Linked DNA regions of Homo sapiens: region 2 is linked to region 1. The links come from fine-mapping of genetic effects on gene expression. A gene starts in region 1. The other region holds a variant in brackets. All regions are shown on one strand. Distances are between the middles of the regions.

The links.
Region 2: its variant is fine-mapped to the expression of INTS15 in whole blood (TOPMed, PIP above 0.99). The same link has a PIP of 0.9 or more in neutrophils.

What each region holds. Positions count from the first base shown.
Region 1 is chr7:6,579,640-6,593,728 of GRCh38, forward strand. INTS15 (integrator complex subunit 15) reads left to right here and starts at 10,382. Exons shown (of 6, transcript NM_024067.4): 1 at 10,382-10,836; 2 at 12,007-12,228. The coding sequence starts at 10,645. It overlaps ZDHHC4 (zDHHC palmitoyltransferase 4), which reads left to right. Exons shown (of 8, transcript NM_001134389.2): 3 at 916-1,039; 4 at 1,968-2,041; 5 at 2,434-2,612; 6 at 3,667-3,792; 7 at 5,377-5,621; 8 at 8,978-9,735. The coding sequence starts at 923. The coding sequence ends at 9,271. It overlaps LOC124901582 (a long non-coding RNA gene), which reads right to left and starts at 10,265. Exons shown (of 2, transcript XR_007060201.1): 1 at 9,821-10,265; 2 at 9,284-9,586. RefSeq lists enhancers at 9,524-10,362, 9,987-10,136 and a silencer at 10,207-10,706.
Region 2 is chr7:6,627,845-6,643,543 of GRCh38, forward strand. It overlaps ZNF316 (zinc finger protein 316), which reads left to right and starts at 9,474. Exons shown (of 9, transcript NM_001278559.2): 1 at 9,474-9,603; 2 at 10,002-10,165; 3 at 11,198-11,297; 4 at 13,981-14,118; 5 at 14,538-14,920; 6 at 15,120-15,229. The coding sequence starts at 14,566. RefSeq lists silencers at 9,154-9,573, 9,814-10,243 and enhancers at 10,304-10,353, 12,574-12,868. The variant T/A (reference allele first, on the strand shown) is at 7,383.

The DNA of each region.
Region 1 (14,089 bases):
CTAGGAGATGCTTGTTCTCAAGGCATTGTCAGCAGATTCTTTGGGGACACATCTTGTATCTTTGTGAATATTTAAGGAAGTAAAAGAATGATTCATGCCTGGGGGCAAGGAAGGAGGATGCATGTTCTTTCTTGGTTTATTTTGGATTTGCAAGTTGGAGATGCTTCAAAGGCAGGCCACAGTCTTAGGGTGTTAGATTCAAAGTTTTTATCTTGGGCAGGTGCAGTGGCTCACGCCTGTACTCCCAGCACTTTGGGAGGCCGAGGCAGGTGGATCACCTGAGTTCAAGAGTTCGAGACCAGCCTGGCCAACATGGTGAAACCTCATCTCTACTAAAAATACAAAAATTAGCCAGGCATGGGGTGCGTGCCTATAATCCCAGCTACTCAGGAGGCTGAGGCAGGAGAATTGCTTGAACCTGGGAGGCGGAGGTTGCAGTGAGCCAAGATCACGCCACCGCACTGCAACCTGGGTAACAAGAGTGAAACTCTGTCTCAAAAAAAAAAAGTTTATCTTTCTTTTTTTATTTTTTATTTTATTAAATTGAGACAGGGCCTCACTATGTTGCCCAGGCTGGTCTCGAACTCCTGAGCTCAAGCGATCCACCCACCTCTGCTTCCCAGAGTGCTGGGATTACAGGCATGAGCCACTGCACCTGGCCCAGAATTTTTATCTTGATTGAGGGAGCTCAGGACCATTTTGGAGGCCCCACTGAGAGGCAGCAGGCCTCTGTTATGTGTGCCTAAGAATTGGTGAATTCTGTTCTGTTTGTCTTTCTGCTTTTTGCTTTGAGATGTCATTAAAGTCTAGATGAATTCTGTTTTGGTAGCCATTTGGGAGTTGATGTCTGAGAATGTGTGCCATGGAAGAAACCTTTCAGTAGCAGATAGTCACACTCTTTCTGTTCCTTTGTAGCTGCAGGATGGACTTTCTGGTCCTCTTCTTGTTCTACCTGGCTTCGGTGCTGATGGGTCTTGTTCTTATCTGCGTCTGCTCGAAAACCCATAGCTTGAAAGGCCTGGCCAGGGGAGGAGCACAGGTAAGGATGATCCTTGGATGGCACTGGAATTTGAATACTGTGTTAGTCTAAGAGACTCACAGGTTTTGCTACAGGACAAAAAAGAGATGCCAGGCCGGGTGCAGTGCCTCACACCTGTAATCCCGCTACTCAGGAAGCTGAGGCAGGAGGATCCCTTGAGCCAGGAGTCTGAAGTTGCCATGAGCTATGATCACGCCACTGCACTCCAGCCTGGACTACAGAGTGAGACCCTGTCTCAACAACAACAAAAAAGATGCCACTTAACATCATTGATGGATTTAGTTCGTTGATGGCAGTTGTGGGATATTCCACAGCCTCTGTCTGTGTGGGTTTTGTGTTCCTGCTGAAAGTCCTCTTGCGGTGGTGCTTTGAGAGAAGAGGTTGCTGTTTTCCTCTGGATTAGATGCCTGTGATTGGGCATGGATGTGAGCAGGGTCCGCCTGGGGCACTTAATGGGTGACTCTGGGGGCCAGCAGAAAGCTCAGCATTGGCTGGCCCCCCTCCTTCAGGGATCAAAGTGAGCAAAACGGGGCAAGCAGCCTATGGGAAGGCATTGAGTTGGGAGGGACCTGGGCCAATGCCCAGTGATCTGGGTGTGGATGCTGGAACCTGGGATTGAACCCAGGCTGGGGAAGGAGCGGCCTTCACATTGACATTCCCCGACCCATCCCCTCTGCTCACCTCTCTTTCCCTGAAGACACTGACAGGTGCCTTCGTCAGAATCAGACTAGAAATGGAGTTGGCGTGAAAGGAAAGACCAGTAGAAAGAATTCCCCTCTTTATTCTCTGCTAAATCACTTCTTCACCCATATAGGGAAACAAAACTTACTATCACCCAGATTGCCAGCTGTATGTGGAGTGTCTGATTTGTTTGGGAGTGGAGGAAGTGAGAAATGAAATTGAGTCTTTCTCTTTCCTTTTGTTTCAGATATTTTCCTGTATAATTCCAGAATGTCTTCAGAGAGCCGTGCATGGATTGCTTCATTACCTTTTCCATACGAGGTATTTCTCTTTCAGAGTTTAAATATTCTCCTCTTTTCTGCTTTGATTATTAATTGTTGAGATCCTCTAGCTTCAGGAAGCTCCTTGTGGTTTCCAGCATGGTGAGGGAAAGAAGGCCGGAAAGAATCACGAGTCCTGAGTTGGGAGCCTCTACTCGTAGTTAATCTGCCTTTTGAGATGGAGGTTTTAACTTGCCTACTTTTAAAAAGCGATATTTACAGATTGTGAATTTCTGTTAAATACATGCAAAATGTTTCACATAGTTTTCTATGTAATTCTTACTATTATCTCAAGCCCAAAGGAAGTGGTTGGCCGTTGGTTACTTTCTTTAGTATCATACAATTTCTTCAAGAAGAAACCCCCATGAACAAGCCATGCCTGTTTTCTTTCAGAAACCACACCTTCATTGTCCTGCACCTGGTCTTGCAAGGGATGGTTTATACTGAGTACACCTGGGAAGTATTTGGCTACTGTCAGGAGCTGGAGTTGTCCTTGCATTACCTTCTTCTGCCCTATCTGCTGCTAGGTGTAAACCTGTTTTTTTTCACCCTGACTTGTGGAACCAATCCTGGTAAGTTGAGGCTCTTAGCATACAGCATGGTGACAGCTCCACTGTCTTACTAATAGTGCTGCAAACAAGGAGAGGCCCCCCCTGAGGACTTTGTAAAAGATTTGATGTGTAGCATTTTCATTACCTTTCAGTTTTGAGTGTTTTCTAATTTTTTTTTTCTTCTTCAACCCATGGGTTATTTAAAACCACTTAAAATTTTTAGTTTATCTTTTTAATGCTTTCACTTCGTTTTGTCATATATAGAGCATGTGATCGGTATGGTACTGTTCCTTTTTTTGTTTCTTAAGACGGAGTCACGCTTTGTCGCCCAGGCTGCAGTGCAGTGAGGCGATCTCAGCTCGCTGCAACCTCCGCCTCCCGGGTTCAAGGGATTCTCTTGCCTCAGACTCCCGAGTAGCTAGGACTACAGGCGTGCGCCACCACACCCAGCTGATTTTTGTATTTTTAGTAGAGATGGGGTTTCGCCATGTTGTCCAGGCTGGTCTCGAACTCCTGACCTCGTGATCCACCCACCTCAGCCTCCCAAAGTGCTGAGACTACAGGCGTGAGCCACCGCACTGGCAGAATTGTACACTTTAAATGAGTGAATTAGGTTTGTGTGTTATATCTCAATAAAGCCATTATTAAAAATGAATTGCGTGGCTGGGCGCGGTGGCTCACACAATCTCAGCCTGTTTGGGAGGTCTAGGTGGGAGGATCACCTGAGGTCCGGAGTTCCAGACCAGCCTGGCCAAAATGGTGAAACCCCATCTGTATTAACAAAAAAAATACAAAAATTAGCCACGCGTGCATTAGCACGCCTGTAATCCCAGCTACTACTCAGGAGGCTTACGTGGGAGAATCACCTGAACCTGAGAGGCAGAGGTTGCAGTGAGCCAAGATCATGCCACTGCATTCCAGCCTGGATGACAAAGTAAGACTGTCTCAAAAAAAAAAAAAGAATTACTTACGATATTAAAGATAGCAGTTTCAGTTGTGTTTTATCAGGACGGGTTTTGTGACTATCCAGTCCAAAGTATTGCACGAAACTGACATATGTCCTTACTTTTCCCAGGCATTATAACAAAAGCAAATGAATTATTATTTCTTCATGTTTATGAATTTGATGAAGTGATGTTTCCAAAGAACGTGAGGTGCTCTACTTGTGATTTAAGGAAACCAGCTCGATCCAAGCACTGCAGTGAGTGTGGCTCTCGTGACTCCAGCGGCACCTCCAACAGCACATGTGTGGGCTTCGTCTGTGAGGGAATGTTTCCTGAATCCGAAAGCAGAGCCAGTTCACCCCCAGATATGGTGTGGCCACTACTTGTAGAGTTGAGATAATGGTTTCTTTCAGATGAGTGAGGGTCAGGTCTTGTGTTCCTGTGTAGTAGACAGTCCTCATCTCTGGGCATAACAGCCCTTCCCTCGCCACGTGGCAGGACATGCTCCCCACAAGTTGTTTCTGCGGATGTTGTGTTTGCAGATTTCAGTCCTACAAAGCCTAGTCTTCTGGGGAGGGCCCAAGATTCTAGACCCGTGCTGTCTAACAAAAATAGAATGTGGCTGGGCGCAGCGGTTCATGCCAGGAATTCCAGTACTTTGGGAGGCAGGCAGATCTCTTGAGCCTAGGAGTTCAAGACCAGCTTGGGCACCATGGGGAAACCCCACCTCTACAAAAAATACAAAAGATGTAGTCCTGGCTACTCAGGAGGCTGAGGCGGGAGGATCACTTGAGCCCAGGAGATCGAGGCTGCAGTAAGCTATGATTAAACCACTGCACTCCAGCCTCAGCAACAGAGCAAGACCCTGTCTCAGAAAAAAAAAAAAAGGCCATGAATAGAAAGTTTTTAAAAATGTTTTTCAAAATGTGGCTGTGCTTGGAGACAGTTTTAATCAGGATGTTATTTAACCTACATATGTAAAATATCATTTTAACATGTAATCAATGTAAAAAATTCTTCATGAGATAGTTTATATTCTTTTTTTCATACTAAGCCTTTGAAATCTGGTGTGTATCTTACATTTATAGCACATCTTGATTTGGACACTAAATTTTCATGTGGAAATGCTTGTGTATTTAGATTTAATAAAATGTACAGTTGAAAAAGTAGGCTTACATGTGCAAGCTATATCCAGATATTCTTAAAAGTTTTCCAATATCTGAATTCGGTACCAAAAAAATAATTTTCCTTCACCATCCATGTCTACATTGACATAATGATTCATCTTAATCAGAAGAATTGACTTTAAAGCAGGAACACCAGTTTTAAAACTATGTCTATCCAAGTCAAGTAAATTAACTAACTCTTGTGTTGCCTCCATATTCACACTGAATTCAAAGGAGTATTGTAGTAAAAAGACAACTGTAAATTTGTCAGTATTGACAAAATGTCCTCTCTGTTTTTTGGTTTGTTTTTTGAGATAGGGTCTCACTCCATTACCCAGGCTGGAGTGCTGTGACGTGATCATAGCTCACTGCAGCGTTGACCTCCTGTGCTCAAGTGATCCTCCCGCCTAGCCTCTGAGTAGCTGGGACCATGGGTGCATGCCGCCACCACCTCAGATTTGTCTTGTAGTCAGATTGCAAGTGCTCAATACCCACATTTGGCTGGTTGCTCCTGTACTGGACACCACAGTTCCAAAAGCTTAGTTTGGAACTAAGCAGCTGCCATTTTCCTCTGATGACACATCCAGTGGACAGATTATGAAAATCTCAGCAGGTGTGCGGTGTCCTTGTCTCGTCAAGCACCATCCCAGCACGTGCCCCCTTGTTTCTGTGCAGGTGTGTGTAACTGGTGTGTGCACCGTTTCGACCATCACTGTGTTTGGGTGAACAACTGCATCGGGGCCTGGAACATCAGGTACTTCCTCATCTACGTCTTGACCTTGACGGCCTCGGCTGCCACCGTCGCCATTGTGAGCACCACTTTTCTGGTCCACTTGGTGGTGATGTCAGATTTATACCAGGAGACTTACATCGATGACCTTGGACACCTCCATGTTATGGACACGGTCTTTCTTATTCAGGTAATTATGCTGTAGGTTTCTGACTTCAAGTTTCAGAATCGCAAAAAAGACATTTATTTTTCCAGTAAAAGCATGAAGTTAGGTGGGGTGTGGTGGCTCACGCCTATAATCCCAGCACTTTTGGAGGCCGAGGTGGGAGGATCGCATGAGGCTAGGAGTTCAGGACCAGCCTGGGCAACACCCAAATGTCCATCAACTGATGATTGAATAACTGGTCTCCTGTAGAGACCTTGTCTCTACAAAAAATACAAAAATGAGCCAGGGCCGGGTGCAGTGGCTCATGCCTGTAATCCTAGCACTTTGAGAAGCTAAGACAAGCAGATTGCCTGAGCTCAGGAGCTTGAGACCAGCCTGGGCAACATGGTGAAACCCCATCTCTACTAAAATACAAAAAAATTAGCTGGGTGTGGTGGCACATGCCCATTGTTCTAGCTACTTGGGAGGCTGAGGCACAAAAATTGCTTGAACCCGGGAGGGAGAGGTTGCAGTGAGCTGAGATTGCACCACTGCACTCCAGCCTGGGTGACAGAGCAAGACCCTGTCTCAGAAACTAACAAACAAACGTGAAGTTTTTCCTTTTTCTAAACTGATATAAAATTCACATATTGGGCCAGGCATGGTGGCTCACAGCTGTAATCCCAGCACTTTGGGAGGCCAAGGTGGGTGGATCACCTGAGGTCAGGAGTTCAAGACCAGCCTGGCCAATGTGGTAAAACCTCGTCTCTACTAAAAATACAAAAAAGTTAGCCAGGCATGGTGGCCAGCATCTGTAGTCCCAGCTACTCGGGAGGCCGAGGCAGGAGAATCACTTGAACCTGGGAGGCGGAGGTTGCAGTGAGCCAAGATCGTGCCATTGCACTCCAGCCTGGGCAACAAGAGCGAAAGAGAGAAACTCCATCTCAAAAAAAAAAAAAATTCACATATCATAAAATTCACCCTTTAAAGTATCCCACAGTGGTATAAGTATATTCACAGACTTGTTCAGCCCTCACTACTATCTAATTTCAGAACATTTCATCATCCCCAAAAGGAAACACTCCCCATTCCCTCCTCCCCCAGACCCAGGTAATCACTAATCTACTTTCTGTCTTTCGGGATAGGCCTTTTCTGGACACTTCATATAAATGGAATCATGCAATATATGGTCTTTTCCACTGGCTTCTTTCTTGTGGCACAAGGTTTTCAGGGTTAATTCATGTAGCACGAATCTACTTCATTCCTTTTGTTTATTTGGGATGGAGTCTCGCTCTTGTTGCCCAGGCTGGAGTGCAATGGTGTGATCTTGGCTCACTGCAACCTCTGCCTCTCAGGTTCAAGCAATTCTCCTGCCTCAGTCTCCCGTGTAGCTGGGATTACAGGCATGAGCCACCACGCCTGGCTAATTTTTGTAATTTTAGCAGAGAAGGGGTTTTACCATGTTGGCCAGGCTGGTCTTGAACTCCTGACCTCAAGTGATCCACCCGCCTCGGCCTCCCAAAGTGCTGGGATTACAGGCATGAAACCCCGTGCCCGGCCTTACTTCATTCTTTTTTATGGCTGAATAGTATTCCGCTGTATGGATAGACTGAATTTTAATTATTTGTTCATCAGTTGATGGACATTTTGGTGTTTTCACTTTTGGCTATTTTTGAGTAATACTGCTGTGAACATTCATGTACAAGTTTTTTGTGTGGACATAGGTTTTTATGTTTATAAAACATGTTTTATGTTTATGTTTTTATGTTTTATGTTTATATTTCTCTTGGGTACATTCCACCTAGAAGTGGCACTGCTGGGTCATATGGTAACTTTTTTTTTTTTTTGAGACAGAGTCTCACTCTGTCACCTAGGCTGGAGTGCAGTGGTACCATCACAGCTCACTATGACCTGGACCTCCTGGGCTCAAATGCTCCCACCTTGGCCTCCCAAAGTGCTGGGATTACAGGTGTGAGCCACCATGACTGGCCCAGAATCACTTTTGATTTGAGGTCTTTATATAATAATGACGGTTAATCTTTTGTTATACTGTTTTTTTGTTTGTGGATCTTTTGGATCTTGGGAATGGGGTTTTGGGTTTTTTGGGGTTTTTTGGTATAGAAAAGTTCAGACATTCTTTCTCATCAAATTTCTTTTCTTTGTAACTTCAACAAGAAAGTCTCCTCCATCAGGAGTTTTGTTAAATGTTCTCTTTTCTTGTGACTTTCAAAAATATTAAACTTTCTAAATTCTTCATTTTGCTTATTACAAAAATAACTTACAAAACTTTAAGCAGCGCAGTTCCTATGGTCATATACCATTTACGGAGTCAGTTTTGTTTTTACCCAAACAAGATGACAGTGTAATCCTTACATCTTGCCTTTCTCATTAGTCAATATATTAAGTCTTTTCACAATCAGTACATAGAAATTGACATCATTTTTCATGGCTCCTCGTTTTCCCATTGTGTGACCATCCCAGAGTTTACCCTTCCTGACGGATGGACATTTAACTTGTTTCTTGGCCAGGCACAGTGGCTCACGCCTGTAATCCCAACAATTTGGGAGGTCAAGGCAGGAGGATCACTCAAGGCCAGGAGTTTGAAAGCAGCCTGGGCAACATAGCAAGACCCTGTTTCTATTGATTTATTTATTTATTTATTTATTTTTAGATGGAGTCTTGCTCTGTCGCCTAGGCTGGAGTGCAGTTGCACAATCTCAGCTCACTGTAACCTTCACCGCCCGGGTTGAAGCAATTCTTCTGCCTCAGCCTCTTGAGTAGCTGGGATTACAGGCTTGTGCCACCACACCCGGCTAACTTTTGTATTTTTAGTAGAGAAGGGTTTCACCATGTTGGCCAGGCTGGTGTCAAACTCCTGACCTCAAGTGATCTGCCCGCCTCGGCCTCCCAAAATGCTGGGATTATAGGCGTGAGCCATTGCGCCCGGCCCCTGTTTCTATTTATTAAGAAAAGGAAAAAAACTTCGGAAGAGGGGCTGATAAAATCAATGATACAACGAATATCCTTGTACATCTATTTTTGGGGTTGTATTGTTTTAAGAAAGACATTGATCTCTTTTGTCCATCTGGATTTTATATTGATGAATGAAGTCTGCATTTATTTTATAAATAGCTAACTGGAATAGCACATTTCCTAAGTAAACTTTCCCTTTTCCTTCAGTGTGAACACTTCATTCATCCCACAGGAAACTCTTGTATGTACTGGGATTATTCTGGGCTGCTTCTCAGTGCTGTTTATGTTCAGTTTGTCACATCTGGACACAAGTAGGTGGGCTGAGGAAGCAGCGCTGGTGGCTGTGGCAGGCCCAGGGTTGGCCAGTGTTCACTCTCATGGATGTCACAGTCCAGCTGCCTAAAGCACTACCTTTTCTCTGCTCCTAGTACCTGTTCCTGACTTTTCCACGGATTGTCTTCATGCTGGGCTTTGTCGTGGTTCTGAGCTTCCTCCTGGGTGGCTACCTGTTGTTTGTCCTGTATCTGGCGGCCACCAACCAGACTACTAACGAGTGGTACAGAGGTGACTGGGCCTGGTGCCAGCGTTGTCCCCTTGTGGCCTGGCCTCCGTCAGCAGAGCCCCAAGTCCACCGGAACATTCACTCCCATGGGCTTCGGAGCAACCTTCAAGAGATCTTTCTACCTGCCTTTCCATGTCATGAGAGGAAGAAACAAGAATGACAAGTGTATGACTGCCTTTGAGCTGTAGTTCCCGTTTATTTACACATGTGGATCCTCGTTTTCCAAGCATGGCTTGTTTGTTTTGATTTCTGCTGTGCTTATAAATCACTTTCGGTGGGCAAGGGAGAGAGGGGAAAATGGGTGTTGACTGAGGAATCCCCCTTGCTTGTCTTCTTTTGAAACCGGGCATCTCTGAAGTCCTGGTGTCAAGGGGATCAAGAGATGACTTCTCAGAGGTTCTAGGTGATGCTGAGACCTTGGTGTCTCTAAACTCTGGGCATGTGGACAGGAGGGGCTTGCGGCCGTGTCTCTGACCTGTGTGATGTGCAGGAGGGTCTCATTGACTCAGCGCCTGCGCGTTGTGCCTGGCTGTGCTCTCTTTTATGCCCCCTCTATTCTCCTCTCTCCCCCAGGGGATTTTCATCTCAACAACAGAGTGTCCTCACCCAGGCCTGCCTTCCGGCCAGTATGGGCTTGTACATCAGGCACCTTCCTGCATGTGTGGCCTCCGGCCTGCCCTCCTCTAGCCACATTCAAGTCCTTTCTCACCAGTTTAAAAATTGTGAAAGTGAACTGCCACCTATTTCAGAGGAGACATGACTGCCAGAAACGAGGTCTTGGTGCGGAAGGTCTTTGGAGTGGGAGGGCTCTCAGGTGCAGGTGGCAGGTGTTCTGCACCTTGCTAGGCCAAGGAGCCCGCAGTCAGAGAGGCTGGGAAGTGGGAGTCAGGGGCAGGGGGCCTTCCAGCCATCTTCCCCCGTACCCCCCAGCTGAGAACAGATGGAAACGTGAAGACGGGTAGCTGGGGCGGCCAGGGAACCCAAGTCCGCTGGCCGAAGCCAAAGCCCGGCACCACCCCCAATTCTTGCTGGTGGAAAGCACCGTGAAATCAACCAGCGGCAGCTCTGAACGCGACGCACAGCCCGCGAGGGAGCCTGGGCAAGGACGGAGCGGGCCTGCACCGGCGGTTGGGCGGGCTCCGGGGGCGGGGTCCACCTGGGACCGCGGCGCGCCCCTCACCGCTCGCGCCGCCAGGGGGCGCCCTCCGGAGAGCGCGCCTAGGCCGCGGCCTGCGCTTGGCCCCTGCGGGCCGCCGTCTCCGTGCCCGGCATTCGGCCGCTGTTCGGCTGCGCGGCGGCAGCTCCCGGCGGCTCCTGGCGGCGCCGCAGTCGGACCTTCGGGCGCCTGCTGGCCGGCGGCAGCAGCGATGGCCCCCTGAGCAGGCAGGGAGCAGGCGGCGGCAGGCGGGCAAGCGGGCGGGTGCCGCAGCCCAGGCCCGGGTCGCGCCTCTTTGTTTCCACGGGTAGCGGCGCAGTCCCGGGCCCCGGGCGGAAGTGAGACGCGCTCGGCGCGGGGGCCGCGGCGGCCGCACCATGAGCGACATCCGCCACTCGCTGCTGCGCCGCGATGCGCTGAGCGCCGCCAAGGAGGTGTTGTACCACCTGGACATCTACTTCAGCAGCCAGCTGCAGAGCGCGCCGCTGCCCATCGTGGACAAGGGCCCCGTGGAGCTGCTGGAGGAGTTCGTGTTCCAGGTGCCCAAGGAGCGCAGCGCGCAGCCCAAGGTGCGGCCTGAGACGGTCGGGTTCCCGGGCCCCGCAGGCGGGCGGGCGGGCCTTTTCCCCAGCGATGCAGGGCTGTGTCAAGCCGCGGGCGCCCCATGTCCAGGATCCCCGCGCTCGCGCTCGGCCTCGCTCCTGCAGCAGCCCCCAAACCCTTCTCCGGGTCCTGCAGTGTTGCTCAGCTGCCTGTCCAGTCTGCGGGGCGTGTGACAGCCGAGTCTTGGTGTTAAAGGGACAAACTGGCGACTGCCCGCTCCCTAGAGGTCTGTTGGGCTGTTACCGAAAGGCTCATCCTGAACCCTCCAGGAGGATGTATAATGATCTGTATGGCTTTCTTCTTACATCTTTTTCTTTTTTTTTTCTTTCTCTGCCTTTTTTTTTTTCGAGACAAGGTTTCACTACGTTGCCCAGGCAGGAGTGCAGTGGTGCAATCACAGCTCACTACAACCTTGAACTCCTGGGCTCAAGTAATCCTCCCGCCTCATCCTTCTGAGTAGCTGGGACTCCAGGCGTGCACCACCATGCCCAGCTAATTTTTGAATGTTTTGTAGAGATGGGGCCTCCCTGTGTTACCCAGGCTGGTCTCAAACTCCTGGGCTCAAGATTCTCTCTCCTTGGCCTCCAAAGTGTTGGAATTACAGGCGTGAGCCACAACGCCTGGCCTATATGACTTTTTTCTAAGATCAACAGCAAAGATCTCCCTGAGACCTGAGCTTTACGAAGGGCGAAAAGTTCTACGGGAACTTTACGAAGGGCGAAAAGTTCTACGGGAAAATACTGTTATTTCCTGTTTTTCTTTTTTTTTTTTTTTTTGAGACGGAGTCTCACTCTGTCACCAGGCTGGAGTGCAGTGGTGCGATCTCGGCTCACTGCAACCTCCGCCTCCCAGGTTCAAGCGAGATTCCTGCCTAAGCCTCCCGAGTAGCTGGGATTACAGGTGCGCGCCACCATGCCGGCTAATTGTTGTATTTTTAGTAGAGATGGGGTTTCACCATGTTGGCCAGGCTGGTCTCGAACTCTTGACCTCGTGATTCGCCCACCTTGGCCTCCCAAAGTGCTGGGATTACAGGCATGAGCCACCGCGCCCAGTCTATTTCCTGTTTTCTTAATGTATGAGTTAATAAGTACGTTACAGCCACATTTCTTAACGCTTTTCCGGGATTTCTTTTGCAGAGACTGAATTCCCTTCAGGAGCTTCAACTTCTTGAAATCATGTGCAATTATTTCCAGGAGCAAACCAAGGACTCTGTTCGGCAGATTATTTTTTCATCCCTTTTCAGCCCTCAAGGGAACAAAGCCGATGACAGCCGGATGAGCTTGTTGGGAAAACTGGTCTCCATGGCGGTGGCTGTGTGTCGAATCCCGGTGTTGGAGTGTGCTGCCTCCTGGCTTCAGGTACTGCTCAAGAGAGACCCTCGGCCGGGTGCGGTGGCTCATGCCTGTAATCCCAGCACTTTGGGAAGCTGAGGTGGGCGGATCACTTGAGGTCAGGGGTTCAAGACCAGCCTGACCAACATGGCGAAATCATGTCTCTACTAAAAATACAAAATTAGCCGGGCATGGTGTTGCATACCTGTAACCCCAGCTACTCAGGAGGCTGAGGCAGGAGAATCACATGAACCCGGGAGGCAGAGGTTGCAGTGAGCTGAGATGGTGCCATTGCACTCCAGCCTGGGTGACAGAGCAAGACTCCGTCTCAAAAAAAAAAGAGTCTCCCCTGAGAGTCTCTGAAGATGATTTTGCTGTTCGGAATTCTCATTTAATTAGATTTCTGGAGTGTTTTTTGTTTGTTTGTTTAAATTATTTTTTTTGGCCATGCTTAGTGGTTCACTCCTGTAATCCCAGCACTTTGGGAGGCCGAAGGGGGGCAGATCACTTGAGGTCAGGAGTTTGAGACCAGCCTGGCCAACATGGTGAAACCCTGTCTCTACTGAAAATACAGAAATTAGCCAGGCGTGGTAGCACGCGCCTGTGGTCCCAGCTACTTGGGAGGCTGAGGCAGGAGAATCGTGTGAATATGGGAGGCGGAGGTTGCCGTGAGCCGAGATTGTGTCACTGCACTCCAGCCTGGGTTACAGAGTGAGACTCAGTCTCAAAAAAAAAACTTTTTTTTTAAATTAGGGTGTGTTTTTTTTTCTTTTTCTTTTTTTTTTTCTGACAGGGTTTCAGTCTGTCACCCAGGGTGGAGTGCAGTGGTGCAATCTTAGCTCACTACAGCCTTTGCCTCCTGGGCTCAAGTGATCCTCCTACCTCAGCCCTCCAAGTAGCTGGGACCACAGGCGCACACCACCATGCCTGGTTAGTTTTTGTATTTTTTTGTAGAGACAGGGTTTCACCATGTTGCCCAGACTGGTCACGAACTCCTGAGGTCAAGCGATCCTCCTGCCTCAGCCTCCCAAAGTGCCGGGATTATAAGCATGAGCCACTGCGCCCAGCTTAAGAATAAGATTTTAAGAGAAATTTAGCAAGTACTGCTGTAAACACACATTTTCATCATGTGGCAGTTCACTGACTCTCCTGAATCTCTTCAATGTGATAGCAGCTGTTAATTTTTACCTGTGGCATCTCACCTGGGATCCTGTAGGGTACAGAAGTTGTCATTTCCTCACCTGAAGGCAGAAATGATGTTTCCTAAGTAAACTGTAAAGCAAGAGCTGGCAGATGTTTTATGTAGAGGGCGAGATAGTGAACTGTCTTCGGCTTTGCGGGTCCTGTAGTCTCTTTCACAGCTACTCACCTCTTTCCTTCTAGTGCAAGAACAGCTTTAGGCAGTAAGCAAACGAATAAGCGCGATCACGTCTCAGTGAAATTTTGTTAACAAAAACGGGTGGTGGGACAAATTTGGTCTGTGCGGTGGTTTTTTTTTTTTTTTTTTTGAGGCAGAGTCTTTCTCTGTCGCCCAAGCTGGAGTGCAGTGGCGCGATCTCGGCTCACTGCAAGCTCTGCCTCCCAGGTTCACCCTAGTCTCCTGCCTCAGCCTCTCGAGTAGCTGGGACTACAGGCGCCCACCATCAGTGGTGCCGGCCAATTTTTTTGTATTTTTAGTAGAGACGGGGTTTCACTGTGTTAGCCAGGATGGTCTCGATCTCCTGACCTTGTGATCCGCCTGCCTCGGCCTCCCAAAATGCTGGGATTACAGGGATGAGCCACCACACCCAGTCAGGTGGTGTTTTTCTGTTTTTTTTTTTTTTTTTGAGACGGTCTTGCTCTGTTGCTCATGCTGGAGTGCAGTGGTGTGACCACGGGGCTCACTGCA
Region 2 (15,699 bases), 49 kb after region 1:
TCCCAGCACTCTGTGAGGCCGAGGCAGGCAGATCACGAGGTCAGGAGATCGAGACCATCCTGGCCAACATGGTGAAACTCCGTCTCTACTAAAATACAAAAATAATTAGCCAGGGGTGGTGGTGCGTGCGTGTAGTCCCAGCTGCTTGGGAGGCTGAGGCAGGGGAATCACTTGAACCCCAGAGGCGGAGGTTGTAGTGAGCCGAGATCGCACCACTGCACTCCTGCCTGGCGACTGAGCAAGACTCTGTCTCAAAACAAACAAACAAATGAAACAAAACCCTGAAAACAGAGGATGCCCCCCACACCTCCCCCATGAAGGGCTCCTGGCCTTCTGCCAACAGGAGGCAGCCTAGGGAAAGAGGGAGGACAAGCGGGCCTATGTCAGCGGCTGGTCCACCTGCCATCCTGCTGCTTATGTGAGCAGGAGGAAAGAGGAGAGGTGATTGGCAGCCTGCCCCAGGGACATGGCCTGCCTGGGCCTGTGCACCCCGAGACAGCAGGAAACAGCAAGAACAAGAAAAACAGATACCCACATGGACATTGCTGCTCAGCCCAGCCAGCCACTGGCCTGTTAGTGGGCAGCTTTCCCTCCCTGGAGGGCACTGGAGGTGGCTAACAGAGGTGGGCTGGAGCACCAGAAAGGCAGCCCCTCACTTTAGCCTCAGCTTGAGCTCCTGCACCGTGCCGCTGGCTATCATGGCATCCAGGGCCTTCAGCTCATGGCATCAGGCCTGGAGTAGGGCAAGGCCCCCCCACAAGTCCCAACCATGAGGTGCAGCCTGAGAGTCACACACCAATAATCAAGGGATGACAGAAAGAGGAGTTCCCCGGCCTGCATGGGGACAGGTGGTATTTCAGCCCAGCCTGAAAGGTGACCAGAGAGGGGGATGCAGTGGTGGTAGGGGACATTTGTCTTGAGCAAGAGCCTGAGGTGGGAGCTGGGGGCAAATCCAGGGGTCTGAGTGGTCCTGTGGCTGGAATTTCTTGCCCTGGTGGGGGGTCCATGGTGGCTATGAAAGGCGTCAGGTGCTGGGGAAGGTTATGACTTGCCAAGGTGGATGGGGTGTGGCATGTGGTCCCGATGGACAGCAGGAAGCCATCCGAAGGCTGTTTAAGGGAACCAGGTGAGAGATGACAAGACTTCAAGGTGACAGAGTTAAGCTCTGGTAACTGGAATTTTTTCTTTTTTTTTTTTTGAGACAGGGTCTGACTCTGTCGCCCAGGCTGGAATGCAGTGGTGCAGTCATAGCTCACTGCAGCCTTGAACTTGGGCTCAAGCTCAAGTGATCTTCCTGTCTCTGCCTCCTGAGTAGCTGGGACTACAGGTGTGCACCACCATGCCCAGCTAATTTATTTTTATTTTTATTTTTATTTTTATTTTATTCATTTGCTTTTTTTGAGACACAGTTTTGCTCTTGTTGCCCAGGCTGGAGTGCAATGGTGCGATCTCAGCTCACCGCAACCTCCCTCTCCTGGGTTCAAGTGACTCTCCTGCCTCAGCCTCCCGAGTAGCTGGGATTAAAGGCTCCTGCCACCTCATCCCGGCTCATTTTGCATTTTTAGTAGAGACGGGGTTTCTCCATGTTGGTCAGGCTGGTCTTGAACTCCCGACCTCAGGTGATCCGCCTGCTTCAGCCTCCCAAAGTACTGAGATTACAGGCGTGAGCCACTGAGCCCGACCTCTAATTTTTTTTTTTTTTTTTTTTTTTTTGAGACGGAGTCTCACTCTGTCACCCAGGCTGGAGTACAGTGGCGCAATCTCGGCTCACTGCAAGCTCCGCCTCCCAGGTTCACGCCATTCTCCTGCCTCAGCCTCCCGAGTAGCTGGGACTACAGGCGCCCGCCACCATGCCCAGCTAATTTTTTGTATTTTTAGTAGAGACGGGGTTTCACCGTGTTAGCCAGGATGGTCTCGATCTCCTGACCTCGTGATCTGCCCACCTTGGCCTCCCAAAGTGCTGGGATTACAGGCGTGAGCCACCACGCCCGGCCCCGACCTCTAATTTTTAAATTTTTTGTAGAGGCGAGGTCTTGCTATGTTGCCCAGACTGGTCTCAAACTCCTGGGCTCAATCAATCCTCTCGCCTCAGCCCCCCACAAAGTGCTGGGATTACAGGCATGAGGCACTGCCCAATAATTCCCAGTAAATGGGAATGATTGTTCAGCAGAAAACTGATCCCTTTGGGAAAGTTAACGTGGGGAGAATGTGGCCTGGCTCTATGGTCCTTGACACCACCGTGAAAGACCAGGTCACCCTCTGCCCATTGCCCTTCCAGAAGAAGCTTGTCCTCCCTGCCCCAGCTCCGAGTCCACCACAGTCTCCCACTCAGGCAGCTGCAAGGCATGCTGGGAGTGAGTGGCCACTGGGGCTGGGGGCTGTCGGGGGCAGAAAGGAGGAGCAGATTCCTCCCTCCTGGCACCTACAAAAGTGTGTCCACCAGACAGGGCTAGATCAAGTCCAGGTCCCCGCAATGGAATGGGAAGGAGCAGGCAGCAGTGGGGTCTCAACTGCCGATGAGGAGGCATGCAGGGCTGGAAACACAGTCTTTCTATTTCCTTGAGCGGCCTTCAGCCTCCCCGGAGCCTCTTCTCCACTCAGCCTTGACCTTTGAGTGTCTGTGCCCGTCTCTGCATTGCCCAGCTGTAGCAAAAATCCTGTCAAGTCAGTTTAGCCAGAATCTCCACCCTTGGTATCTGATCAAATCCCTCCTCTCCCACCACCTGCCAGGTGCCCTCTGATCACTCTTGCCTGCCTTCAGCCAGGATCCTGGGAGTCAGTTCAACCACAACCTCCCACTCCTTCGTATTTTTCCACCCACCCACTCCCCTCCAACCTGCTCCTAGGCTGGAAGTCTCCACTTGTCCCTGCTGTATTCAGAATTGAGCCCAGTTCTATACTGAGGTCTCTTTTCCCTATTGCAATAGTTCCTGAATAAAATCTGTTTTTTACCGTTTTAACTACTGTCCAGCTTTGTTTTCTTTTTCTTTTTTTTCTTGAGACAGGGTCTCAGTCTGTCGCTCAGGCTAGAGTGCAGTGGCACCATCATAGCTCACTGCAGGCTCACCCTCCCGAGTAGCTGGAACTACAGGCTCGCACCACCATACCTGGCTAATTTTTTCTACTTTTTGTAGAGACGAAGTCTCACTATGTTGCTCAGGCTGTTCTCGAACTCCTGGGCTCAAGTGATCGATCCTCCCACCTTGGCTTCCCAAAGTGCTGGGATTACAGGAATAATATGGTTTGGATCTGTGTCCCCACCCAAATCTCATGTTCAATTGTTATTTATTTATTTTTGGAGACTGAGTCTCCCTCTGTCACCCAGGCTGGAGTGCAATGGTGTGATCTCAGCTCACTGCAACCTCCACCTCCTGGGTTCAAGAGATTCTCCTGCCTCAGCCTCCTGAGTAGCGGGGATTATAGGCACTCGCCACCACTCCTAGCTAATTTTTGTATTTTTAGTAGAGACGGGGTTTCACCAGGTTCGCCAGGCTGGACTCAAACTCCTGACCTCAGGTGATCCACCCACTTTGGCCTCCCAAAGTACCGAGATTACAGGCCTGAGCCACCATTCCTGGCCTCTCAAGTTCAACTGTAATCCCCAGTGTTAGAGGTGGGGCCTGGTGGGAGATGATTGGATTATGGGGGCAATTTCTCATGGTTTGATACCATTCCCCCTGGAGCTGTCACCACGACAGTGAGTTCTTGTGAGATCTAGTTGTTTACAAGTGTGTGGCACCCCTCCCTTCTCTCTCATTCCTCCTGCTGCCACCATTTGAAGTGCTGGCTCCCCCTTCACCTTTTGCCATGACTGTACGTTTCCTGAGGCCTCCCCAGCCATGCTTTCTGTATAGGCTGCAGAGACATGAGCCAGTGAAACCTCTTTTCTTAAATTACCTAGTCTCTGGCAGTTCTTTATAGCAATAGGAGAACCGACTAACACGAAACATGAGTCACCGCTCCCAGCCTCACCTATGGTTTTAATAGCAGCACTACTGCCTTCAGCCCACTCCAGGCACACAGAGGCTCCGTGGGGGCATCCATCAGCATCCTTCTGTGCCAGGCTCCCTGCCAGCCCCTGGTGTGAGAGCTCAGGAGGAGCCCAGGAGGGCTTCCTGCAGGAAGAGACAGCTGAGGAAGTCCCGAGAGCCGAGTGAAGGGGAGCTCTGCCCAGTCAATGTTCAGTCCCTGCAGGTGGGTCTGTGCAGATACGGGGCAGGCCCATGTACTTGAACGGAGATGCTCTCGGCCTCACAGAATTCCAAATGCCCCAGATGCCTGTTAACTTTTCACATACCCTGTGTCCCTGCCAGTGAGACACACGAAGGCTGAAGCATAGAACAAGCTTCATGCCAATCACTGGGTGGGCTGGCACCCTCCTCACTGCCAGCACCCACCGTGGAGGATGGGCAGGAGCCAGGCAGATGACACCCCAGGAACTGTTTCATGAGTATGCTTGGATATTCCCCCAGCCCCAACCCCACCAACTGCTCATAGATAGATGACTGACATGGAATTGTACTAGTGCAAAAAGGGTATGATTTACTTTTTTTTTTTTTTGAGACGGAGTCTCACTCTGTCGCCCATACTGGAGTGCAGGGGCGCGATCTCGGCTCACTGCAACCTCCGCCTCCCGGGTTCAAGCGATTCTCCTGCCTCAGTCTCCTGAGTAGCTGGGATTACAGGCACCCACCACCACGCCCAGCTAAATTTTTGTATTTTTTTTTTAGTAGAGACGGGGTTTCACCATGTTGGTCAGGCTGGTTTTCAACTCCTGACCTCAGGTGATCCACCGGCCTTGGCCTCCCAAAGTGCTGGGATTACAGGCATGAGCTACTGCGCCCCACATTATTTAATTTTTGAGATGGAGTCTCACTCTGTCACTCAGGCTGGAGTGTAATGACACAATCTCGGCTCACTGCAACCTCTGCCTCCCGGGTTCAAGCGATTCTCCTGCCTCAGCCTCCCGAGTAGCTGGGATTACAGGTGTGTGCCACCACACCTGGCTAATTTTATATTTTTAGTAGAGACAGGGTTTCTCCATGTTGGCCAGGCTGGTCTTGAAATCCTGACCTCAGATGATCCGCCCACCTTGGCCTCCCCAAGTGCTGGGATTACAGGTGTGAGCCACTGTGCCTGGCCCCTAATTTTTGTATTTTTAGTAGCAACAGGGTTTCACCATGTTAGCTAGGCTGGACTTGAACTCCTGACCTTAGGTGATCCACCTGCCTCGGCCTCCCAAAGTGCTGGGATTACAGGTGTGAGCCACTGCACCCAGCTATTTTATTTTATTTTATTATTATTTTTTTGAGACAGAATTTTGCTGTGTCGCCCAGGCTGGAGTGCAATGGCACAATCTCGGCTCACTGCAAGCTCCGCCTCCCAGGTTCACGCCATTCTCCTGCCTCAGCCTCCCCAGTAGCTGGGACTCCAGGTGCCCACCACCATGCCCGGCTAATTTTTTGTATTTTCAGTACAGACGGGTTTTCACCGTGTTAGCCAGGATGGTCTCGATCTCCTGATCTCGTGATCCATCTGCCTCAGCCTCCCAAAGTGCTGGGATTACAGGCATGAGCCACCGTGCCTGGCCTATTTTATTTTATTTTTGAGACAGAGTTTTCCTCTGTCACCCAGGCTGGAGTGCAGTGGTGTGAACATAGTTCATTGCAGCCTCAACCTCTTGGGCTCAAGCAATCCTCTCACCACAGCCTCCTGAGTAGCTGGGACTACAGGCATGCACCACCACACCCAACTAATTTTTAAATTTTTAGTAGAGTCAAGGTTTCACTATGTTGCCCAGGCTGGTCTTGAACTCCTGGGCTCAAGCTATCTTCCTGCTTCGGCCTCCCAAAGTGCTGGGATTCCAGGCGTGAGCCACTGCACCCAGCTAATTTTTAAAAATGTTGTGTAGCGACAGGGTCTTGCTATGTTGCCCAGGCTGCTCTCAAACTCCTGGCCTTAAGCTTTCCTCCTGCCTCAGCCTTCCAAAGTGCTGGGACTACAGGCATGGGCCAATCCTGGCCTGCTTTTTAATTACTTCCTTCTTCAAATGAGTCTAGGGAAATCTATCAAGACTGAGTTCAGTAGTGAGTGACAAGAAGGTCCAACTAAACTACAGTTTATGACAACCAATTGTCCCCAGGTCAGAGGCATCCTCAGGTGGCCCAGGCCTGGTCTAGCATCTCCCTAAGGCCAAGGACACATAAGTCCCACCAGCTTCCTTCGTCTCCTCTCCGTCTCCTCAGCCCCTCAGCAGTGCTGTTGGAGCAAGAAGCAAAACTCACTCGTAGGGCCCGGTGAGGTGGCTCACGCCCTTTCCTTTCCTAAAAAGGAAAGGGAAAGGAAGAAAAGGGAAGGAAGAAAGGAAGGAAGGGAAAGAAAGAAGGAAAGAAAGGAAAGGAAAAGGAAAAGGAAAAGGAAAATTATCTGTGGACGAGGGAGAGGAAGAAATTGAGTCTTGGATTAGGTATCAGGTGAGGACAGGCCAAGAGGAGATCTGAGGAGATGCTGGGGTGATTCGGGGTCCCTGCCTGACAGGGTGGAGGGATCTAAGGCCGGGATGGAGCTGCTGACTCTATTATACACACTCCTCTTCTGGGGTCCCTTGCTGTCCACATTACAGGTGGTTTTGGGCAACGGGCAGCACTGGGAAGTGACAGGGTGCAGGAGGGCAGGGTTGGGGTACTCTCTCCTTGCCACACTGTCCCTCTATAATCACAGTGCCCACAGTGTCCCCATCTTTATATCTCCACCTCCCTCCAGGCTTGACAACATCCTGCCCTTTCCTGCTCCTGCAGGGCTAAGGGTGGCAAAGGCCTGGTGCCTTCACATTCCAGCTGCTTCCCTTTACCTGGTGTATTAGTCCATTTTCATGCTGCTGTAAAGAACTGCCCAAGACCGGGAAACTTATAAAAGGAAAGAGGTTTAACTCACAGTGGCTCTTGCCTGTAATCCCAGCACTTTGGGAGGCCGAGGCGGGCGGATCACGAGGTCAGGAGTTCGAGACCAGCCTGACCAACACGGTGAAACCCCATCTCAACTAAAAATACAAAAATTAGCCAGGCGTGGTAGTGCACACCTGTAATCCCAGCTACTTGGGAGGCTGAGGCAGGAGAATCACTTGAACCTGGGAGGTTGACGTTGCAGTGAGCAGAGATTGTGCCACTGCACTCCAGCTTGGGCAACAGAGTGCGAGACTCCATCTCAAGAAAAAAACAAAAACAAAACAAACCACCACCACCACCACCAACCACCACCAACCACCACCACCACCAAAAACTGACTCACAGTTCCGCATGACTGGGGAGGCCTCAGGAAATTTACAATCATGGTGGAAGGGGAAGCAAACACTTCCTTCTTCACATGATGGCAGGAAGGAGAAG[T/A]GTGGAGCAAAGGGGAAAAGCCCCTTACAAAACCATCAGATCTCATGAGAACTCACTAACATGAGAACAGCATGAGGCGAACTGCCCCCATGATTTAATTACCTCCCACCGGGTCCCTTCCACAACATGTGGGGATCATGAGAACTACAATTCAAGACGAGATTTCAGTGGGGACACAGCCAAACCACATCACCTGGTGACACTGCTTTTGGTCAATTGTTAATTGTCCTACAGTCAGAGCCCTTCCTGGGAGTGCCTGGGGGCAATTGCACCTTCCTACTGAACCTGACGGATCAGGTAGGGTGGGGAAGGGTCTAATCTAGGGATTAGGGGTTCTAAAAGATACCCACAGGAGAGTCAGGCAGTGTCATTCAGATGTGGGCCTGGAGGAAAGGGACAGGGAGTGGTGGGCACTGAGGACCATGGCCACGCTCAGTCCCACCCACAGAAGCTGGTTACTTCTCAGGCCCTACTGGCTGGTGCCCTGCAAACCAGGGGCCTTGTGTTGCCAGAACTTCTGATTTTTCAGATTTTATTTATTATTAGAGACAGGGTTTCAATCTGTTGCCCAGGCTGGAGTGGAGTGGTGCTATCATAGCTCACTGCAGCCTCAACCTCCTGGGCTCAAGCAATCCTCCCACCTTGTTTTCCCAAAGTGCTGGGATTACAGGTGTGACCCGCCTCGGCCCCCCAGAGTGCTTAATTTATAGGTGTGAGACCCCGCATTAGAACCTGATTTTTCAATTTTATTTTTTAAACAAGAATGGGACTCCTTATTTTAAAATGTTATTAACTTTAAGACATTTTAAGACACCAAGAGCCAAGCGACATCACTGTGAGGGTCTGATTCAAGGGGTTGGGGCTGCACCCCTCTGTGGGACTAAGGTTTGAGTCCTCCTCTATCTTATTATTATTTTGAGACAGAGTCTCACCTTGTCGCCCAGGCTGGCGTGCAGTGGTGTGATCTCGGCTCACTGCACCCTCTGCCTCCCGGCTTCAAACGATTCTCCTGCCTCAGCCTCCCAAGCAGCTGGGACTACAGGGGTGCGCTACCACGGCCGGCTAATTTTTGTATTTTTAGTAGAGATGGGGTTTCACCCACCATGTTAGCCAAGCTAGTCTCGAACTCCTGACCTCGTGATCCGCCCGCCAAGACCTCCCAAAGTGCTAGGATTACAGACACCGTGCCTGGCCGAGTCCTCCTCTATCTCTTGCCCAGTCAGGCCTGGGGTCCCCACAGAAAAGCACCAAGAACAGTGGTGCAGGCGGGCTGGGAGCTGGGGAAGGGGCCCAGGCCACACCATTCCAGGCGGAAGACAGACCCTGGACTCCACCAATGCCAGAGCTCATCCTGACACCCCAGCTGCACCTCTTGGGAGCAGGTGCAGACAGGCTTGTGGGTGGGGGTCTGGGGGTGGCCGCTGAGCTCACCGACCCCTCCCTGGGTTCCTGGGGTCGCCTGTCACTTCTGCCCCCACACTGGCCATGCCCTCTGCCTGGACATCGCTTCCCTGCCCGTGACCCCATGTCCCTCCAAGTGCGGGCTCCACAACCCCAGTCTCCTCCTGCACTCAACCGCCACAGTCCACCCATAAGACGTTCACCCCGCCCGTCCCTCCTCCCTCCCCACCCACAAGACGTTCACCCCGCGCGGGCCCGGGGATCTGGTGGAGGCGTGGACACCTGGCCCCCTCCCCACCACAGGGGTCGCCTCCTCCCTCCACCATCCTGGGGTCCCGGGCAGGCTCCGTGGACTGGCGGAGGGGGCCCAGCGCGGGGCCTGGTCCTCAGCGGGCGCCCCGATGAACGAGGCCGGGCTGGGGTTCGGGGAAGGCGGTGGTCGCAGCGGCGGGACCTCGGGGTCACCTCCGAGACCTGGCCAGGGTGTCCAGGAGCGGGGCGAGGTTGTGGGCGCCCCACGAGTGTCGAGGGCGCTCCCGTCCCCTCCCCGCATGCCCCGTCCTCGCCCCGGCCCGAGGCCCAGCTGGGCAAACCCCCGCAACCCGCGCTTCCCCGCTCCGCGCCGCTGCCCCCGCGTGACCGGAAGTTCCTCCCCCCGCGGGCGCGGGCGGGGCGGGGCCGGCCGGCGGTACTTCCGGTGCCCACGCGCCGCCGTCGCGCAGCTCCCGGGCCGTCACTTTGTGTAGCGCGGGGTCCGCCGCCGGCCCGCAGGCCCCGGCCCCGGTGTCCGGCCCGTGGCTCGGCCAGCCCGGCCCGCGCGGTGAGTGGGTCTCGCGGGGCCGGTGGGCGGCGGCGCGGGCGGCAGGTGCGGGCGGGCCGGGCTTGCGCTCGGGGGCGGCGGCGGCGGCGGGGCCGGGCTGGCCCTCGACGCCCGGCGCGGGGAGGCCGCGGGGAGGCGGCGGGGCCGGGGCCTGCAGAGTCGGAGCGGAACGCGGGTAGGGACTTCCGCGGCAGCGCCCCCGCCTCCCGGACCCCCGTCCGGGCCTGCGCGTTGCCGACCCCCGGGGCCGGTCCGGGCAGGAGGCGGAGGGGGCAGGCCCGGGAGGCCACGCGTGACACCTCGGGGTGCCCGCCCACGCCTTCTCGGCCGCAGCGGCAGGGGCTGGGCCGCGGCCGCCCCCAGGACACACCCATCCAGGAGGGGCTGTCATCGTCTAGGTCTCTGCAGGAGGAGGCGGCTCCGGACGCCCCCTGGGGGGCGGGAGGCGCTCGGCCCGTCGCCCCAGGAGCCCGCTTTGTGACCTTGGGGGCCTTATCCGGGCTTTCCCTCATCTGCAGAAGGAGCCCCGGTGGGCTGCTCGGCTGTCTTCTGCTGCCGGCAGGTAGGTAGGGACACCCATCCCTGGGATTGGATGGGGTCTGGGCTGTCCCGCGTGGCAGCAGAGGTAGGAAAGGGGCTGGGCTTTGGTCGAGGACCCGATGGGCAAGAGGAAGTGCAGGTACCAGGAGGATCAGGCCCCCAGCTCTGCTTGTGTGGGGAGACCTCGGTGCTTGGTTTGGTTCAACAAGTGTGGGCAGGTCTGGGGGCCGGGTGGGGTGGTGAGGGGGCTACCCTGGGGAACCTGAGATGGCCCCCGTGGAAATAACCTGCACCAGGAGCAAACCCAGGAAAGTAGGGGGATCCAGAATCCGAGGACAGACAGTGAGGACTGTGGTGGTCGGGGAAGGAAGTCCTTCAGGAGGGCATGAAGACCCGAAGGGCTCTGAGGGCAGCGGGGGCCACCCAGAGGGAATGAAGGGGGCTAGACACAAGCACACCCCCACATCTCCCGCTCTCTGAGTTGGGTTTCCCTGGCTTTGGAGCTTTTGTGAGGAGTTTCTATCAACTTTCAAGCTTTGCCTCTTCTTCCTGCCCTTGCCTCGCTCCCTTCTCCTCTTGGGAGATACCTTGTCACCTCCCATTCTAAATGTTGGCTGCAGCACCGTATCCTAGAGTGCAGGGCCCTAGTAGAAATGAGGGTTTGGGGCCGGGTGAGGTGGCTCACGCCTGTAATCCCAGCACTTTGTGAGGTCGAGGCGGGTGGATCACCTGAGGTGGGGAGTTTGAGAAATGAGGGTTTGGGATGACGTTGGTGAAGCTCCCTGTGGCCTCTGGTTTGGGATTGATGCTGATGAGACCCCCTGTGGCCTCTGACCCAGAGTTGGATGCCGAGGGAGAAGTGAGCAGTGTTTACAGTGGACTGGCAGGCTGGCAAGAAGAGGGCAAGAGTGCAGGCCTGGGGGAGGCAGAGATAACCCAGGGGGAGTTGCTGGAATCTAAACTCTGCCCGGACTGCTGAGGTCCGTTTTTCAAACCATTATGTTCTGAATCTTGGGTTGGGGACGATGTCTGGCTGTGCTTCTGACCTCTGTAGGAGCTGGTCCTCCACCTTCTCTGGTCATCCGTGGGTGGACTTCTTGGGAGAAAGAACTCAGTGTCGTCTTTGGAGGCAGAGACTCTCCACTGCTTCTGGGGTGAGTTCCAATTCCAAGGGTCCCCCCAACCCCCTACCCCCAGCAGTGGTCAGTCTGTTCTGGAACAGGACAGTAGGGCCAAAATGCTGAGTTTGAAAAATCCTGTGTCCATCACATTGGCTGGCGACTTTAGACATTCTTTTAGTAAGTATTTGAATGCTTCTTAAGTGCTGGTGTGAGGGGTATTCAGACATGAGCAAAGGGAGCTTCTGCCGCCCAGGAGCTGGCTGTACTCAGGGAGAGAGATGATAAGACAGTCTCATAAGTGTATTTTTAAGATGTGGTGAGTGCTGTGAGGGAAGAATTACAGGGAACTGTGTCACCCACTGGGGCCCAGGGGGCTGCCTCAGAAGACCACCCAGGAAAAGGGGAAGAGAGTTCTGGGGATGGGGAATAACACACACACGGCCTGAGATGAGATGAACATGCAGCCACTTTATTCCAAAGCTGTGAAGTGTTCTTCTGTTGTGTCCTCATATATGGCGGCCTGGCTCTGGGAGTTTAAAGTTGCTGCTTCAGGTGGTGGCCAGGCAGGAGACAGCTCTACTGAGCTTGGCATGGCACCTAGGCCCAGCCTGAATCTGCGGCCTGAGGCTTGAAAGAGAAAAGCCCTCCTCTGGGCCTCAAGTGGGTGGCAGTTGGGAAACCGTTGCTGCGTGTACCCAGCGCCCTGAGTGCTGGGCAGGGCCGTGTCCTCCTGGAGGTGGCTAGCATAACACGCAGCACGTGGATTTCGACACTTTGGGCATCTTCACACGCCAAAGAGCTGTGGACACTGAGAAGGTTGGCTTCTGGGAGAGGCTGGAGGTTGGGGTGGCGCTCCCAGGCGTAGTTCTGTGACTTGAGTCTTTGGGGGTTAGTGATTCTGAAACTAGAAAGGGGGCTGGAGCCAGTCAGGGGGCACGTGTGACCTTCGGGACAGAGGTGGCTTCTGGATGCCTGTGTGTCCCAGCCTTTGACTTGGGTGAGCCTGTGTGAATGCTCAGAGCTTCCTGGCTATTAAAGTGTGGATTTTAAAGCAACTGCTCAAAGCAGTTCAGGAAATGAGTACGCGCGGCTGCTATGGTTTGGGTGTTTGTCCAGGTGTCAGGCTGTTCTCGCATTGCTGTAAAGAAATACCTGAGACTGGGTCATTTATAAAGAAGAGGTGAGACTGGCGCATGGTTCTGCAGGCTGTACAGGAAGCATGGTGCTGGCATCTGCCTGGCTTCTAGGGAGCCTCAGGAAGCCTTTAATCATGGTGGACGGTGAGGGGGAGTAGGTATGTCACATGGCGAAAACAGGAACAAGCAAGAGAGAGTGAGTGGGGAGGCGCCACACACTTTTAAAGACGACCAGATGTCCTGTGAACTCATTACTCACTGTCTCCAAGGGGATGGCCCAAGATTCAGGAGGGACCCACCCCCATGATCCAGTCACCTCCCACCAGGCCCCGCCTCCAGCATTGGGGATTACGGTTCAGCGTGAGATCTGGGCGGGGACAAACATCCAGGCTCCATCAGTCCCCTTCCAGTCTCACGCTGAAGCATGATTTCCAGTGCTGGAGGCGGGCCTGCTGGGAGGTGATTTCCAGTGTTGGAGGTGGGCCTGGTGGGAGGGGATTGGCCCATGGAGGCGGATCCCTCATGAATGGTCTAGCACCGTCCCCTTGGTGATAAGGGAGTTCTCAGTTCACAAGAGATCTGGTTGTTTTAAAAGAGTGGGGCTTCCTCCCTCTCTCTTGCTGCCCCTTTGCCTCCCTCCACGAGTGGAAGCTTCCTGAGGCCCTCCCCAGAAACAGATGCCGGCGCCATGTTGGTGCAGCCTGTTGAACTGTGAGTGAATGAAACCTTTTTTCTTTGCCACTTACTCAGCCTCAGGTATTCCTTCACAGAAATGCAGAAATGGCCTAACACAGCTGCGCTAATTGATAGAGAAGTGATGGGTTATGGAGGGAGAGCTAATCACGGAGCAGCTTTCTCCTGTGTCCGTAAGAACACCAGGCGTGGTGGTCTGGACTGTTCTCGTGAAGGCCACTCAGTCTTGTTTTAGGAGTTCTGTGGCAGACACTGTCCACTGCTCGAGCTGGATGAGCTAGGGTGGGCCCAGTGCTCTGTGTGGCCAAGTGGCCTGACATTCCAGGATGCTTCTGGGGCTCATGGCCTCTCCCCCTGGATTCTGGGCTTGGCTTGCTTTGGAAATGGCCCTGTTCAGGCCAGAGACACTGATGGTGTGTGTCCTGGGTAATGGGCCCGGTCTCAGGTTTATACCCAGAAAGGAGCCACAGAAATGGACTCATCAACGCTATGACTCTGCCGTGCCCTTGGGACCCCACAGGGGCTAGTGAAGGACACGCAGTGGGGAGGGGCGAGGGGTCCCAGGGCCAGCAGCTCCCATCCTGCTGTGTCCATGGCCCTGGACCCTGGACCCTGTGTCAGTGTGGCTGCCTCTCCCCTGAGCTTCTGGGCTGAGCTGTTACTGATGTCAGTGAGAGAGTAGGACGCTGTAGCCTCTAGGGCTTTGGTAAGTCAGCCCTCAAGAGTCTCTGATCCCCAAACTTGAAATGTCACAGGCATTTCCTGTCCTCCTGATGGTCTGGCGATGAGCCGTGTGTCCACCATGCACTGCGCTTTTCACAGAGCGAGGGCTGAGGGCACATGAGGGTGATGCTGGCTCACAGCCCCCACTCTCCCATGTCCTGCAGGAAGAAGCCTGACCTGCCGGCTTCCTGGCACCTGTCTCTCCTCCTAGCCCCGTTGTGCCTTGCAAGTGCCTGCATCCTGTCTGTGCTGAGACCTCTTGGCGTTCCCTGCTGGCCTGGTTCATGTGTGTTGAGGACCAGGTAAGCGTCTCTTTGTCCTGTGTATCAGGTGGGCTTTTCCTTCTGGCTAAACATGGGCCACCCTCGGGCTGTGTGATGCTTCCTTGTGGATAAAGACTGGGATAAATGCCTGATTTACTCCAGGAAAGAGCAGCAGTTCACACCAGGCACGTAGTTCTTGGTGAAAAGGAGCTGAGACTGGCATCCCAGGGGTCACGCGGAGGGGCCATTGGGGCAGCCTTTCTGGGTACAGAATGTCTTGATGGTGCAGGGTAAGATCGTGGGAAGGCCCGGTCCTCCCTCATCTCCATTGCCTTCAACTACATAACAGGAGGAGTAAATCCTGCTCCCTGCGCCCCCGCCAGGCTGCGGGAGACCCTGTGAGGGGACCGTGTGGTGTGCTGAGAGCAGCCCGTCACTGGCGTCCATCTGCATTTCAGGCCACGTGGAGGCTCGCTCCCAGGGAGGATGGCGGCGCTCCACACGACTCCCGACTCCCCAGCTGCCCAGCTGGAGCGGGCAGAGGACGGGTCAGAGTGCGACCCTGACCAGGAAGAAGAGGAGGAGGAGGAGGAAAAGGGGGAAGAGGTGCAGGAGGTGGAAGAAGAGGAGGAGGAGATAGTGGTGGAGGAGGAGGAGGAGGGTGTGGCAGAGGTAGTGCAGGATGCGCAGGTGGAGGCGGTGGCCGAGGTGGAGGTGGAGGCGGACGTGGAGGAGGAGGATGTGAAGGAGGTGCTGGCAGAGGAGGAGTGTCCGGCGTTGGGGACCCAGGAGCGACTTAGCCGTGGTGGTGATGCCAAGTCCCCAGTTCTTCAGGAAAAGGGTAAGAAAAGCAGCCAGCCTTGGGGAGGAGATGAAGGGGGCTGAGGTGGGCCAGGCCAGGGACCTGGTCAAGCCAGGAGGGCTCTTGGGCCGACAGGGTGGAGCTGAAACCCAGCTTTGCAATGAGGGTGTTGCCAGGGCTCCTGGCCCTGCAGGCTGGGGGCTCAGGGCAGCTGGCCCTAAGAGATCTCTCCCCACAGGCCTGCAGGCCTCCCGGGCTCCAGCCACTCCTAGGGATGAGGACCTGGAGGAGGAGGAAGAGGAGGAGGAGGATGAGGACGAGGATGATTTGCTGACGGCTGGGTGTCAGGTGAGCCGCCCTCTCCGTTTGGGGCTTGGGTAACCTGGGCAGGGTTTCCCCCGGGGCCTCGGCACCTGCTGTTTGGAGGCGTCTGTTGGCAGCGGCCATGGCACTGGAGTCCCCGGACCAGGCCCAGGCCCTGAGCTGGGAGTGGCCACAGGAAGCGGCTGGGTGTCCAGCCCCAAGCCCGGGGGTGTGGTCCTGCTTTCCTGGGCGTTGGGTTGTCCTGATTGCTTTGGCTGCCACCCACTCAACCGCACTGTGCACAGCGACTTCAGAGGCCTGGCTCTCCCCCAAGGCTGGCCCTCCCCTCACCTGGAGTGCCTGTCACATGTCCAGGGTCTGGGTTCCTGCTGCCCAGTCAGGTCAGGCACCAGTGCCCACGCTCGGTTTAGTTGCTGCTGCTTGTCCACTCGGGTGTGGGCCCTCCATGGCTGACATGGCCATTGCACTGGCTTGAGCCAGACTGCATGAAGAGG